Linked DNA regions of Homo sapiens: regions 2 and 3 are each linked to region 1. Evidence: fine-mapped expression QTL. A gene starts in region 1. Each other region holds a variant in brackets. All regions are shown on one strand. Distances are from middle to middle.

Region 1 (5,224 bases):
ACTGTTGTCTCTGCTGAATAAATGGCACAAGGGTTGCTATGGTTTGAATGTTCCCTCAGAAACTCGTGTTGAAACTTAACTGTCAATGTAATGGCATTGGGATGTGAGGTCTTTAAGAGGTGATTAGGCCATGAGAGCTCAGTCCTCCGAGTGGATTAATGCTGTTATCTCCGGAGTGGGTTAGTTATTGTGAGAGTGGTTTCCTGAGAGGCTGAGTTCAGTCCCCTTTTTCTCTCTGTCTAGGAGGCTTGCCTGCTGTCTTGTCTTCTGCCATGGAATGACGCTTGTCAGATGCCACTACGATGCTCTTGGACTTCTCATCTTCAGAAAGCTAGGAAGGTGAACAAATTTGTTCTTTTTTATTATTATTATTTGAGACAGAGTTTCTCTCTGTCGCCCAGGCTGAAATGCAGTGGCGTGATCTTGGCTCACTGCAACTTTCGTCTCCTGGGTTCAAGCAATTCTCCCACCTCAGCCTCCTGAGTAGCTGGGACTACAGGCTCATACCACCATGCAGGGCTAATTTCTGTATTTTTGTTAGAGACAGGGTTTTGCTATGTTGGCCAGGCTGGTCTGAAACTCCTGACCTCAAGTGATCTACGTGCCTCGGCCTCCCAAAGTGCTAGGATTACAGGCATGAGCCACTGCACCTGCCAACTTTTGTTCTTTATAAATTAGCTAGCCTGTAGTATTCTGTTATAGTAGAAGAAAATGGACTAAGACACAATGTTGTGGCTACTGTCAGCTCTGCTCATTCTGGATCCCTCAAGTGTGTGGCTCATGTCACACATGGGACCAGGGTCCTGGTGTTTTATTGTTCCATCCAGGGCTCTATTCTATATATAATCTATCTATCTTTCTTTCTTTCTTTTTCTTTCTTTCTTTCATCTTTCTTTCTTTTTTTTTTAGATGGAGTCTCTCTCTGTTGCCAGGCTGGAGTGCAATGGTGTGATCTTGGCTCATTGCTTTGCAACCTCCACCTCCTGGGTTCAAGTGATTCTCCTGCCTTGGCCTCCCAAGTAGCTGGGATTACAGGCACGTGCCACCATGCCTGGCTATATAATACTTCATCAGATATGGTGGTACAGAAAAGATAAGAAGTTGTGCTCTTACAACAAAAGTTTGAAATATCAGATGATCCAGTAGAGTTCTAAAAGATAGTAAAGATTAGAGGCTGTGGGTATCAAAGATGGGTATCTCTGGGGAAAGAGAAGGAAAGAAATTATATTTTCAGATAGCTATGTCTTAGAGAAGAGTATCTTCTGATGTGCAAGTTGGATTAGAGAGAATGTATAGCTAGTGGAGGGACCAGATGAGAAGCTATTTCAATGGTCCAGGACTATTCTAAAGGTATTTAATATTAACTGGGCAGTTACTATGTTCCAGGCACTGTATCAAGCACTTTACTTACATTAACTCATTTATTTCCTGTGGCAACCCTTTGAGAAAGAATTGTCATGAGTACTCTATTTTACAGATGAGGAGACTGAGGAGGAGAGTGATTTGGCAACATGCCCAAGGTCAGATGATTAATAAATGATGGAGATGAGATTTGAGTTTGTGTGACTTCAGAATCTATGCTGTTGACCATGACCCATATACTGAACTAGGTTAACAGTGTATAACCAGGTGGAGCTTCCCTATAGGAAGTTAGAAAGTAGGATCTGGAGCCCAGGAGAGATATTGGGATATTGGGTTAGAGGAAGAGGTGTGAAGTCATCCGCATGGAGATAACGGTTGAGAAAGACATGGGGAGTGATCACCACAGCTCCTTAAGTAGAGGGTGTTTTATGATTCAAAAGTAGGCAGCCATAGAGAAGGGAAGCTCCTTAGATCGATGAAGTAATCCCAGATAGGAAGAAGAGTGAAAGAGGCAGGGAACAGAGTTTTCTCTGTTGGAGAGGTTTCGTAAACTGGGACTGACTTTCATGAAATTCCGAGTCATGAAATCTCAGGGGGTGACTCAAACATTACGTTCACATTAAATGAAGGCCAACAGATTTTCCTGTTTGTGCTTGGTCCATTCTCAGAAACGTCTCTTGCCACCCTTTCTCTTCTGCTAAGTAAGGCTTAAAATTAGGAAGCATTCTTTAAAAGGCAAAAGAGGAAATAGATGAGTGAGAACACAAAGGAAACTTGGACAAGTAGAAAGTGGATGACCCAGGCTCCGTTACATATACTTGGATTCCAGCTGGGACCTAGATTTGCTGAGGACGGAAGCCAAGGAGACAGGAACATGTGGCTGCTCCCAGCTCTACTCCTTCTCTGCCTCTCAGGTGAGTGGGGCTGTGGCTTTGGGGACTTGGTTTTGCAGGGGGCAGGACAGTAGGTAGAAGAGCTGTCCTGGGTTCAAACCAGAGGTGAAGTGTCCACAGAAAAGGGAAAGATACATCCGTTCATTCACCTGTGCATCCTTCTATACATTCAATCATTCATCCACGGATCCTACAAACACTTACTGAGCACCAGATATGTGCCAGGACTGTTCTGGGTGCTGTAATTAAGAGTAACTTCTGAACTGAGGGAGTCAACTAACTACAATACAATGTGGAAATTACTGTTGTAGAGACTCATTCATGTGGTGATGAGAGTATGCAACAGGAACCCCTCACTTTGCTCTTGGAAGGGTGGGAGATGTCACTGAGGCTTCATTGGAAGTCCATCCTGCAGGATGAATGAGTTGGCTGAGTGGGAAAGGAATAGCTTATGTGCAAGTGTGAGGACATTAAAGACCATGGAGAGTTCAAGAATTAACAATAGTTCTGTTTTGACGAAGCTTAGTGTAAAGGGGTTGGAATGGTTTGTGAGAAATAATTAATGGGCTGGGCGTGGTGGCTCACGCCTGTAATCCCATCACTTTGGGAGGCCAAGGTGGGTGGATCACCTGAGGTCAGGAGTTTGAGACCAGCCTGGCCAACATGGTGAAACCCTGTCTCTACTAAAAATACAAAAATTAGCTGGGCGTGGTGATGCATGCCTGTAGTCCCAGCTACTAGGGAGGCTGAGGCAGGAGGATCGCTTGAACTTGGGAGGCGGAGGTTGCAGTGAGCCGAGATTGCACCACTGCAGCAGTCTGGCCTGGGTGATAGAGTTGAGATCCTGTCTGAAAAAAAAAAATGCCATCCTCAACATCTACCTTAAATCCTTCCCGGAACAAGGTGTGGTGTAAACAAGTAAATGAAACTGTCCTGCAAAGGTTGGACTTCAGAAGAGAAACTCTTATTAATAGACATTCAAAATACAAAACTGCAGGAAAACACATTTGTCTCTGGGGAAATAAATTTAGGCTAAAAATTAGAGGACATTCTTCATGTTTGCAGAATGAATTTTATGGTTGAGTTCCCTCACAAAACATAGAAATTGCCCAATGTAATGACAAGATTCTTTCTAGAAGGGTGAGTGAAAATGACAGCGATTTAAAGGAAGAAGACCAGGTAGGTGACATGGACCCAAACTCGTGGGCTCAAGCAATCCTCCTCTCTTGACCTCCCAAAGCACTGGGATTACAGGCATGAGCCACTGCACTCAACCAATGTTTGCTCATTTTGTATTTGAATTTGCTTCCTTTTTCTTTGCCCTTTCCATCTCTCTTTCCACCCCTATCTCATTCCCCATCCTCAGACTCGCAATGTGACCTGCGCAGGTCCCTCTGAAAATCTTAACTGGGAAAGAGAGATGGAAAGGGCAATTCTAGCAGGGAGGGGAAATGACAAAGAGGAAGGAAGCAAATTCAAATACAAAATAAGCAAACGTTGGTTGAGTGAGGTGGCTCACACCTGTAATCCCAGTGCTTTGGGAGGTCAAAGCAGGAGGAATGCTTCAGCCCAGGAGTTTGAGATCAGCCTGGGCAACATAGCAAGACCCCATTTCTACAAAAAAAGAAAAGTAAAAAATTTAAAAAGAGCAAAACTAGAATTCTATTTATTACACATTTTTATAACCTATAAACACTTCCAAATAGATGATAGAATTTAACCCTCTGAGCAGTTTTGTGACCCAGGCAGGGCAAATAGCATTGACTCCACTTTATAAATAAGATGATGAAGGGAGATCTGATGACATAAGAACTAAGTAGACAAGCTGGAAATGAAGTCCAGATCTGTGTCCTCCACAGAGCTCTTTCCATTGGCCATGGAGGTGTCAAGAATAAGGCTAACCTAGTAATAGTGACAAAATAGCTGACCTCTCTGCCACATCATCTGGTATTTCCATTCTGAACTGATTGCTGTCCAATATTTAGTAGCTCCCATTAACCTCAAGCAACCAGCAAGCACATGTTTCAACAAATGCACCGACGCATTTATATAATTCCATCAATTATTTCCAGGAACATGCTGGATTTCCTTGAGAAATGCTAATCTTGCATTCAGGTAACACTCTAGCAGGACAGAGGAAAGTATCTTGGAATTAGCATAACCTTCTTTTTCCTTAACTTCAGGTGCCCAGAATTAGATCATGGGTCATGGAACACTCTCTCATCACTGGTCCATTCAAGACCCTCTTTTATTTTAATTATATGTAACTTAACAAACATCTGTGAGCTCACTGGCCAATCCATGAACTAGAATGTTATCAACAGCATGGATCTACCCACTCCTTCCCAATCCAGTCCTGGTTCTTCTTTCAAACAACAGTAATTTGGTGTCATCTGCCAATACTTTGCATGAAAATTTGCTTTTGTTATATTTTTACATTAAGTAGAAAATTGGGCTAAGCAACCATAAGCCATGCTCTACATCTGAGGGTCTGTGATTTAATCAGCCACACCCCTTATCTCATCTTTTTCTTTCCTCTTCTTCTTCTTCTTTTTTTTTCGAGAGGGAGTCTGGCTCTGTCACCCAGGCTGGAGTGCAGTGGGGTGATCTTGGCTCACTGCAACCTCCGCCAATCAGGTTCAAGCAATTCTCGTGCCTCGGCCTCCCGAGTAGCTGGGGTTACAGGCGTATGCCACCACACCTGGCTAATTTTTGTATTTTTAGTAGAGACAAGATTTCACCATGTTAGCCAGGCTGGTCTCACCTCCAGTGATCCGCTCACCTTGGCCTTTATCTTTTTCTTTAAGCTCACCTATCCAGGCTCTCCCCTCTGCAAGTTGCCTTGCTTTACCTCCATTTTGGAGGTGGCTTTGCTTACTGGGCTTTAGATAGTACTCTTATCCACACTGCTGCCCTACCTCTGAAATATAAGTCTTTACAAGTGACTTCCTTTTTTTTTTTTGGCCGGA
Region 2 (5,224 bases), 20 kb after region 1:
GCTGCCTCATATCACCCACATGTTTAATATTTGGTCTAGCTAAACGAGTGGGTTCTGGGGAGTCCCCATCAGCGTGTAAGAGTCTGATTCCCCAGTCTTATTCCTCATCCACTCCCCTACACCCAGTGCCAGGGCCCTTTCCCTCAGGCCATCCCTGTTCTCTCCCCGAAGCTGGCCTCCAGCCCAGGGCATGGAAGCAGTGATGAGTCATGTGAATTTAACTCAGAGTTTTCTTGAGTGAGAGCAGGCCTGCCATATTGCACATCCTAAAAATACCCTTTAAACCACTGTGTTCTTCTTGCAAGTTCCACTCCCCGTGGAGCCGCCGCACCCTTGGTCTCTTCCCGCCAAGTTTCCCCTTGTGCCTCTCCCGTCTCGCTAGAAGTCCTGGCACTGCCATCCCCACTCAGCAGAACAACCGCTCTGCAAACAGTGGAGCGAGACGAAGGCCAGGTCAGGAAGCATCCCCAGTGCCTCGCCTCTTCCGGACTCCTAGGGAACACAGGATCGGTGCTGGCAGGCTCCAGGGAACAAGACCCTTTGAAAGGAACGGAGTTGGGCTGGAGAAGGGAGCCGGTGGAGCAGGGAAGGCAGGATCCAGGGAGAGAATGGGCCTTGACCCTGGACTTTGAGGGATCCTGAAGCACCAGGCTGTGATGGGGTTAAACAGGGGCAGCCGCATTTGCGCGGTGATGAGACATCCTATTGATCCCTCGAAAGGAGGTGGGCTTCGGATTGATGTCCACACCCATCTACCATGCTGGGAATGTGAAAGAAAAGCAAGAGGCCCAGCTTCCCGCTCTCCCGCCCTGCCCTTCCCTAGCCTTGGCTGGAGAGTTGGAGCGATGGGCACACCCCTGCCTGTGACTGTGGTAGGCAGAATAGTGAACCCCACCCACGATGTCATAACCCCAAAGCCTGTGAATATGTTTTATTACATGCAAGGGGGAATTAAGGCAGTGGGTGGATTTGAGACTGCTCGTCAGGTGACCCAGGGTGGATTATCCTGGATCATCTGGCTGAGCCCAGTGGAATCACCAGCGTCCTTATAAATGAAAGAGGGAGGCAGGAGAGACAGTGGAGCGATGCTCTGTGGGAGACTCCACCGACCTTTGCTGGCTTTGGGTAGGAGGGGGCCATGAGCCAAGGAACACGGGTGGCCTCCAGAAGCTGGAAAAGGCAAGGGAACAGGCCCTCCGCTGGAGCCTCTAGAAGGAACCAGCCCTGTTAACACCTTGATTTCAGCCCAGTGAGACCCATTTCAGACTTCTGGTCTCCACAGCTGTATGATCATGAGACTGTGTTGTTTTAAGCCACAAAGTTTGTAACGATCAGTTACAGCAGCCACAGGAAAGCCACCCAGACAGCTGCCCTTCCAGAGCACCCAAAGCTTCACCTCGCTTTTGCCTCCTGGGGCTTGAGGGACTCGGTGAAGCATGGAGCCCAGAGCCTGCTCTCTGGAGCTCAGCCTGTTGCAGCTCATCAGGGAGAATCTCCTGCAGTGCTCAGGTGTAGACAGGGAGGGGAAGGCCCACTACAGACTTCACTGTTTCTCCCCTGACGAGCGCCACATGAGGGTCCCTGGTGAGAGCATCTGAAGGAGCAGTCATGGGGCAGCCTAGGGAAAGGTCTGTGGGAGCCCAGCTCTGCTCACCTGGTGAGGGGGCTGGTAAGAGCCGTGGGCTGGGTGCTGTTGGTGCTCTGGGTGAGAGAAGGCCAGGAGGCCAGAACTGTTGGAGTGGTTGTTCTCATAGGTTCTGCTGTGTCTGCTGTCCCAGGTGAAGCTGGGTCTGCTGTTCCAGGCACAGCTGTGTTCCTTTTCCCAGGCACAGCTGTTTCTGCTTTTCTAGGTACAGCTGTGTCCATTGTCCCAGGCCCAGCTGTGTCTGCTGTCCCAGGTGCAGCTGCGTCTGTTGTCTTAGGTTCAGATTGTTTTCTTGGAGTTGCTGTGGGACATGCAAAGGATAGTTTTGAGGGTGACCTAGGTGGCTTCCCCGTGGCTCACGTCACCTCTTACCCCTCCAAGGATCGTGAAGCATTTAGTCTTAGCACTACAGTTGTTTTGTTTTGTATCTTTTTGGTATCTTACCTAAAATGTAATATTATTTCACTTACAAACAAACATCACTGCACCACCTGGGAAGGACTTGTGGCGAGAAGCTATGCAGGCAATTTACAAATATTCAACTTAGTCCCAGAGTCCTGCGTTGCACAGCTGAGCGTTGAGAACCACACTCTGCTTCCCTGAAGTTCTACATCAGAGCCAGCCAGCCCTTCTCTTGAGTCTCAGCCTGGGCTCCAGCAGGCTGTTTGTTGCCTGCTGTGTAGCAAAGTGACCCTCAGAGCCAGCTGCCCCTCCCTGGGCCCTGCCTGGGGACTCAGGACTCCTCTCCCCTGCAGCTGGGCAGAGCATCTGTTTCCAGCTGAAGTTTTCCTGCCTCCCCAAAGCTTCCTTATTTCACTAGGCTTGGAGGGTTGCAGCCTCCGACTCTCCCCCAGCTCCTCCTTTCCTTCCA[C/T]TCATGCCTTTGTTCTCTTTTTAAGTCAATTTCTGAAACATTCTAAAACCAGACTTCCCCACTGCACACACACACAGGCACACCACATCCGCATATACTAAGCTGAAAAGGACTTTTCCCTGCCTTGTAAATGGGCCCACAAGTAACAGATATATGATTGAGCTGCAGCATCTATGCATGTGCATGGGGAGCTGACAGTTTCTCTGGTGCCCACGGCGGAGATGACACTGATGGCTCTGGGGGCTGGGCTGTGGAGTGAGGATGACAGCCGGACTCTCTTTCTAGGAGCCCCCTGTTGTGAGTTCTCAGTATCCTCAAAGGCTCGGGGCAGCCAGGGGAGGCCTGTGGGAGGGCTCTGCACTATGCCGGGTTCTGTTTTTCCCTCTTTCAGGAATGGGTCAGAGTCTCCCATGCCTTCCTTTGTCCATATGTCACCAGAGGTGGGAGAGGACGAGAGAGAGGTGGCTCCAAGGAGAGGGTCACCAATGGGCTCTTGGTCACTACATGCTTGTCCTGGAGCTGAGACTTCTGGGATTGCGATTTTCTTGCATTCCCCTCCCTGTACACCTGACAAGTCCTCCCGTCAGGCTGGGGCTGCTCTGAGGGGGCACGGGTTGCCCCAAGTGACTTGCAGAAGAGAACCTGCCTTCTTTCTTACCCTGCACTGTGCCTGCCCAAGCTGACCCAGTTCTGCTTGGCTCCCTCTGATAATAGCAGATAGAGACATACAGAGATACTGAGGCTTGCTCTGTCTTCCAGTCTTTCCAGAATCTTGGTGTAACCCCTCCCCCCAAACACACACACATGCACATGCACACACATAGGCCCACAAACACAGACATGTACACACAGACACACACGGGCCCATTCGTACACATACATCTATGCACAGCACACATATAGACACGGGCAAGCCCAGGCACACATACACAGGCACACACAAGCACACACAAGCCCATGCACACACGTAGTCCCAGGACAATGTCAAGACAGCATCACTGAATCCTCTCGGGTCAGCACCAGAGTTTGGTACAGGAGGGAGCTGCTCCGACCTGGGTAAATGGTCACTTCAACTTGGACCCCAAGGTCAGTGCCTGTCCTCTCAATCCCACACCAGTAGGTGTCAGTGTCGGACCTCCAGAGCATCTTCATGGTTATGGTGAACACACGGTTTTTCTTTTCTTTTCTTTTTTTAAATTTTATTATTATTATACTTTAAGTTTTAGGGTATATGTTTCTGATCGTCCCTGATGGACACTCGGTCTCTCTCCGCTGTCTGCTCTGATCCTGTGATTGTAATGAGGATTTTGCAGGACTGCCAGTCCTTCCCGTGGCACCACTACTTGCTGTAGGTCTCCCAGCCTTGGTCATAATGACACTGCACTGTCAGTGAGTCCCATTCTGTGCCCCACACAGCTCTAGGACCATAGATGGAGAAATACTCTGGAAGACAGAACCCAACGTCCAGATCTTCCCTCCCTGGGCACTGCCCAGGGCTTCCGGCACCTCCCTGGGGACCAACCAGGAGCCTTTATCCTCAGCCCCCAAATTGTCAAATTCTCACATCCATTTGTTCCTTAATTCCCCGGCAGTATTTCTTTTGTTGTCACCCCTCTGACAAAGTTCTCCTGAGGGCTCCAACTGCCCAACACAGTGGTCTGTTCATGCGCCATCCTAGCGACCACTGAACACCCTCTCATTTTGGAAACCTTCCCTCCTTTGCCCTGAGGTGACACCCACTTCCCCACCAATCCCTGGCTCTCACTGCAGCCACCAGTTTATTTTATTTATTTATGTATTTATGTATTTATTTGGAGACGGAGTTTTGCTCTTGTTGCCCAGGCTGGAGTGCAATGGTGCGATCTCGGCTCACCGCAACCTCCGCCTTCTGGGTTCAAGCAATCCTCCTGCCTCAGCCTCCCGAGTAGCTGGGATTACAGGCATGCGCCACCACGCCCGACTAATTTTGTATTTTTAGTAGAGACAGGGTTTCTCCATGTTGGTCAGGCTGATCTTGAACTCCCGACCTCAGGTGATCTGCCCTCCTCGGCCTCCCAAAGTGCTGGGATTACAGGTATGAGCCACCGCGCCCGGCCAGCCACCGATTTATTTTAAAATCCCAGAGCTGAACAGGTAGACATCCTGGCTTCCCCCAACTCCTCCGCCCACTGGCACTGCACCCCACACCCCTAAAAACCCTCTCCTGTGAGTCTGCACATGTGATAAAGTTTCATGGAACCAAACACACCCACACCCCCACACACACACACACCCCCAACACTCACACACCTGTGCACACACTCAGTGCACAGTTGTTTTTCTTTGCCTAAGCACCATGCTATTTTTGTCTCCATACCTTTGCACAAGTTGCTCCCTTTGCCCAGGAAGTTGTCTCTTCCTTGCTTGATGGACTTAAGCCCTTATTCCCCTCCCTGAAGGGTTGGTTCAGCCCCGCCCTGGTGCCACCAGACCACTTTGTATCTGTCTCAGTTGTTGTACTTACAACCTTGAACAATGGTCTGGTCTTTGGCTCGTCCAGAGCAGAAGCTCAAGCAGGCTGATGTGTGGGGTTGACTTACATTCCAGAGAGCGATGACATCCTTGCCTTATTGCCTGTCTTCCTCCCTGTAACTCTGAGCTGCTCCATTTTAGCTACAACTCATGACAAGCTGTGGAGGCTTCTAAACTAGCCAGATGTCTGAACCCCG
Region 3 (5,224 bases), 27 kb before region 1:
GTTGTTACATGTATAAGGAATAAACATTCTACCAGGTGACCAAAAGAGCAAAGGAATAGGGAGAGATGGAAGACAAATCCTTATTTGAATGATGTAAAGTAAGAGACATAGGGAAGGAAAAGGGCTGGATCTAGGGCGAGGTGACAAAGGTGTCTACGGACAGTCACTCTCAGGGTCATGCCTGCACCTCGGGAAGACTCCTTAGATTTTGTGCCCTACGTGCCTTTTTTGCCTTGCTGTGGTCTGGACCATGGAAAGGAGAGAAGATGGGTAATAGAGGGAACTGAAGAAGAGGGATGGGGGTAATGTGGAGAGAGAGGAGAGGCTGGGGATGGATTTCAGTAAAAAGGAATCAAAGGAGAAGAAAAGAAGAGGGGAAAGGGGAAAGAAAAAAGTAAAGAGTAACTTTCAAGTTAGTGGTTCAACGTGGAAAGTTTTTAATTCAGAGAGAATATTTCTTTACACCTAATATTTTAGAAGTGGGAACAGATGGAAGGTCTTATTTTCATCTTCCTGCCCTAAAAATTAGGCCATAGGCAGGAAGAAAAATATTGCACCAGCAGGAAGAATATGACAAAGGACAGCGACTTATGATAGTCAGGTGTGTGTCAGCAGCCCCAGTGCAGCACAGCCAGGTTTGAAGTGAGGTCACCAGCAGTGGTTGTGGCTGAACCAGAGGGGAACCTACTTTTAAGACAAGTTATGAGAATGGGCTTTTGGTCCCATTTCCAGAAGGCCACATTGCGGGTGTCCTAGCTGCCTTGTGCTGTTCTATCAGCTATGGCATCAGGATCTGCCCGGCAATTAGTGGCTGTGGGACACACTAAATAAAGCCAGCCTTGAATAGTCTCCTGGAGTCTAGCACTGTCTGCCTTTTATACGCCCAGGCATTTCATAACCTCATTGTCAGTTCTGCAGTTTCCTACAGCATGAAGCAGAGAAGGGGAGATTTGGACTCCAGAGAGGGGCCATTGGGTAGGGGGCAGACACCCTGAACATTGCAATTATCTAGAATTGCTGTTTTGTCCAAAACTAATGGTTGTGCCTCCACACATAACTCAGACAGGGCTTTATTTCTCCTTCAGAGAGCTGGGAGAGAGTGTTGGTAGAATGGAGGTAGATGTTTGGTAGAAATAGAAGGAGAGAGCACTCATTTTTCTTAGGGGAAGGCTGTAAGTCTGGGAGGAGCTGGCCTCTGTTGCTCTATCATCTCCCTCTAGACAAATTACCCCATTACTGGCCAGGCACAGTGGCTCATCCTTGTAATCCCAGCCCTTTGGGAAGCCGAGGTGGGCAGATCACAAGGTCGGGAGTTCGAGACCAGCCTGGCAAAGAGACAAGCCTGACCAATACAGTGAAACCCCATCTCTACTAAAAATACCAAAGGTAGCTGGGCATGGTGGCAGGCGCCTGTAATCCTAGCTACTTGGGAGGGTGAGACAGGAGAATTGCTTGAACTCGGGAGGCAGAGGTTGCAGTGAGCTGAAGATCGTGCCATTGCACTCTAGCCTGGGCAACAGAGCGAGACTCCGACTCAAAAAAAAAAAAATGTACTCCTTTACTTTAGTGGACCAGTGGGGAAGGAGCAGAAAGAATAGGTGAGAACGTGAGCTTGAGTCAGGCCTCTGTGATTTATTATAAGTATTAGCTATTATTATTAGAAATACTTTCTTATAGTGTATAGCATGGACATTTAATGTGACATTGGATTGAATAACAGGGGATTGCATGCAAAGGGTTTGGTGTCAAGGGAGGTCTGATCTATAAACCCATGTGGTTAAGGTGGAAGGGACTGTCTCCTCTGCCTCTCCCGCTTCCTATTCCACCTTTCCCACCTTCCCTAACTATTTTCCTCAAGAACTACCCTCAGGTTGTATTTGCTGGTCTTCACCTGGCTTCCACTCCCACCCTCCACGGAAATGGCATTTGCAGAGATCACCAGTGCCCCTCCTGCTTCCAGACCCCAGGGCCATTCTCCTTTGCATGTTTTCCTGGACTTCCATGCTGGTGGGTACTCCGTCCTCCTCCAAACTCCAGCCTTCTTGGCTCCTGTGGCTCTGTGCTGTCTGGATTTTCCACCTATTTGCTTTTTTTTATAG[C/A]CATTTTCACTTTTCTTCCTGGATTCCTTGTCTTCTTTCCATTCTTTAAATTGTGTTTACGCCCAGTGTTCTGCCCTGCTTTCTTCTTTTCCTTCTATACACTCACTGGGTGATTTGCAGCCACTTTCATGATTTCAACTCCTGCTTAGGATCAGCGACTGCTCTTAGGCTCAGATATCCCCTAACTGCATGGCTGCAATTCAGTGGGGTGTGCTGCCACTTTCAGTGACCCTGGACACAATGGAATGGTCCAGGATTGGGCACTTGATGAAAGTCAGGCCAATCTCAGTTCTTCCCAGGCAGGGTTTCTTTTTACTTTTAACTGAGGCTAAGGAAGGAAGTAAGGCTTTCTCTGGGAATAAAACTCCTAAGATGGAAAACGTGAGAGGTGTCAGTGGCCATTTTCCCTCCTCCTGGAGAAAGCTGTCTCTAGGGTGAGAGAATAGAGCCCAGAGAGGACAAGGAAGAGAGAACCCAGGGGCTGTTTGATTGCCCGGTTCCAGTTGACCCCGACACCCAACAGGATCCTTGCCTTTCCCATGGATTTTCTTTGAATGATGGGTGATAGCCTCGTATTCCTCTAATGTATGTCCCCTTTTGCCTGAGTGTGTTCTAGGTAGGTTTATAGAACCGTGCCTTATCCTCTGGATAAATGATGACTGAACAGGCACAACGATGAGATACAGGCACGCAGTGTGTACTGAGAATCTATCACAGGCCCCGGTGCTTGGCTTGGAGCTGCAGGGAAGCCTTCTAAGGCATTTTTTTTTAATCCTGAAAGCACTGGCTTTCATTTTCCTTCTTATCTCCAGAGATGCCTCATGCTTTCAGCCTCATGAGACACAAACATCAATCAACATTAATCCTGAGATACCGCTCTGGGCGAGATATGACAGGATGCACTTTATCAACCTCTTAATGTAGTGTATGTTTCAGGTAGAAGCCAGACAGGACAGATTTTCCCCAATCTGTCAATTCCTACTACTGCTTCTTTTTGGAAAATCAACTCTGAATCCCACTCCCACAAAAAATCCGGGGGTTTTTAACTTGAAATCTTGGAGGTGAAAGGGTGCCAAGAAATTAGCTGATCCAAGGAAGATGGCCATGATGGAAAAAAGGGGACAATTTGCACCATAGGATCTCAATTTCAGAAAAAAGATACACACCCAGGATAAACAGGAAAGAATTGTCACCAGAATGTTTGCAAAAAGATAATGAAGTTGTGGTGATACTTGTTTTCTCTCTTCCGGATCTTGCAAAATTTCTATAGTCAATATATGTTACATTTGAATCAGGAAACAAAAAATAAATAAAAAAATTAAAGTTATTCTCTTTCTTAAGCTGGGTGGGGGCACATAGGTGTGCATTTTATTATTCTTTATAACTTACAGGTCGTATATACTCTTTGTAGAAAATATTTAATACTCTAATTTTTTTGGTTGCAGAAACTCTTGTTGAAATAAAACGTAATCTGGAGGCCAGGCACAGTGGCTCACGCCTGTAATCCCAGCACTTTGGGAGGCTGAGGTGTGTGTTTCACTTGAGGCCAGGAGTTCAAAACTAGCCTGGCCAACATGGTGAAGCCCCGTCTCTACTAAAAATAAAATGTAATCTGGAAGCTGCATTAAGTGATGCAGGGGTGGTCCTGGGGGCCGGCTCCCTGGTTCTCCCCTCCAATGCCCAGAGACAACCCTATGCACAACCAGGACCTCAGGTGAGAACAGTGACGTCTGGTGCCCCAGGTGAGTGGTGAACTGGGACTAGAATCCGGTCCTTCTAACATCTTGCCCAGCTTTTCCCCCATTCGTTGCCTCTCTTCACTCAAGTTTCCTTCTTGATTTTTCCTTCTTTAAACTCATCAATGCTCAAGGCCTAAGGGATAAAACTAATGCTACATTCCTCTTCCCTGATGTTCTGTATTCACTCATTTTCTAGGATTTGTCCTTAAAATTTGAGTTTTTATTTTGATAGATGGCGAATGGCAGGAAAGGAGGAGGAAGAGGGTGACGGAGAGGTGAGGAGAGAGGGCTAGGGGCTGCCTGCAACTTCAGCCTGGTGGCTTGGTTGCCTGGTGGCCCCAACGGTGGGTTCTTGGATCAAGTGTGGTGATGTTTTCTGGCTGCTGCTGGGTCAGATGGGAGCCAACTGTTCCCAGAGGCTAAAACCACAAACAGGACAGTCCATGGAGGCTCCGTGCCCCTTAGGGACCTAGAATCCTGACGGGTCTAGCTGAGGGCTCTTGGCATGGCTGGCCAGGAAGAGGGAACTTGTTTCTGATTCTCAGCAGGCAGAATCCTGTGGATGAAGTTATTCTGTCTCTATCGATATGAGCTCTGGAGCAGCTCAGCTCTGGAGCTGTGAAAGCCTGGCACACGCACACCCACCCTCGCTTCCCTCTCTCATCAGCCATCACTCTTCACTCAGTACTCAGTGGCTGTGATAGCCCAGGAGGCCCAAGCTCAGCCCCATCCTTCTCAACTCACTTTTCCAGGCACACCTCCAACTGATTGGAGGGGACAAAAGTACATTTTTCCATCCCTGGGAAATGCAACGTGCCAGGCACTATCACCCACTGGATGCTAGGTTTCAGCTTCAGGCGAGGCAGTGAGAACCCTCCTCAGCTGCTACCCTCCCCTGCCCTCCCCTCTCCCTCCTTCCCCATGGGATCTGTAGGGCCCGCAGCTCTGCATTGGCTTTGCTCAGACACACCAGCCTCAGGGTGCAGCTGCTATGCACTGGGGGACTGCACTGCCTCTCCTGTCACTGTGAGTCCTGGCATCTTAGTTCTCAAACATGCAGTTGAGTCAAGAAGAATGATGGCCATTCCTTCATCTCCTGACTTTTAGGATCTGGGCTAAGCTAGGACACAAACCAGGCTCAGAAATGAGGCTTTGGCTCCTGGCACCCACAGCTCTGGATTTGCAGGACAGATAAGACACGGAGCCTGCCCCGGAGCTCTTTCAGCCAGCTTCCCCACAGACAGCAGTTGGAGCTGCTGGGCCAGGCTTTGCTGGGTCCATTTAGCTTGGGGCATCTGAGAGGGGACGGTGGTGTCCTTTATCTCCAGGACTCCCACAGAGCCAGTGGACTCTGCAGCTGGGCTCTGGGTGCCTTGTGGCCGTCCT

Evidence for each region.
Region 2: its variant is fine-mapped to the expression of CD300E in whole blood (TOPMed, PIP 0.92).
Region 3: its variant is fine-mapped to the expression of CD300E in whole blood (TOPMed, PIP above 0.99).

Annotation. Positions count from the first base shown.
Region 1 is chr17:74,620,634-74,625,857 of GRCh38, reverse strand. CD300E (CD300e molecule) reads left to right here and starts at 2,120. Exons shown (of 4, transcript NM_181449.3): 1 at 2,120-2,276. The coding sequence starts at 2,237. LOC101928343 (a long non-coding RNA gene) reads right to left here. Exons shown (of 4, transcript NR_158152.1): 4 at 1-331.
Region 2 is chr17:74,600,572-74,605,795 of GRCh38, reverse strand. It overlaps LOC101928343 (a long non-coding RNA gene), which reads right to left. Exons shown (of 4, transcript NR_158152.1): 2 at 1-1,946. Among named protein-coding and RNA genes, the nearest start is that of CD300LD, 11 kb to the right of the region's middle. The variant C/T (reference allele first, on the strand shown) is at 2,517.
Region 3 is chr17:74,647,796-74,653,019 of GRCh38, reverse strand. No RefSeq gene overlaps it. Among named protein-coding and RNA genes, the nearest start is that of CD300E, 27 kb to the right of the region's middle. The variant C/A (reference allele first, on the strand shown) is at 2,100.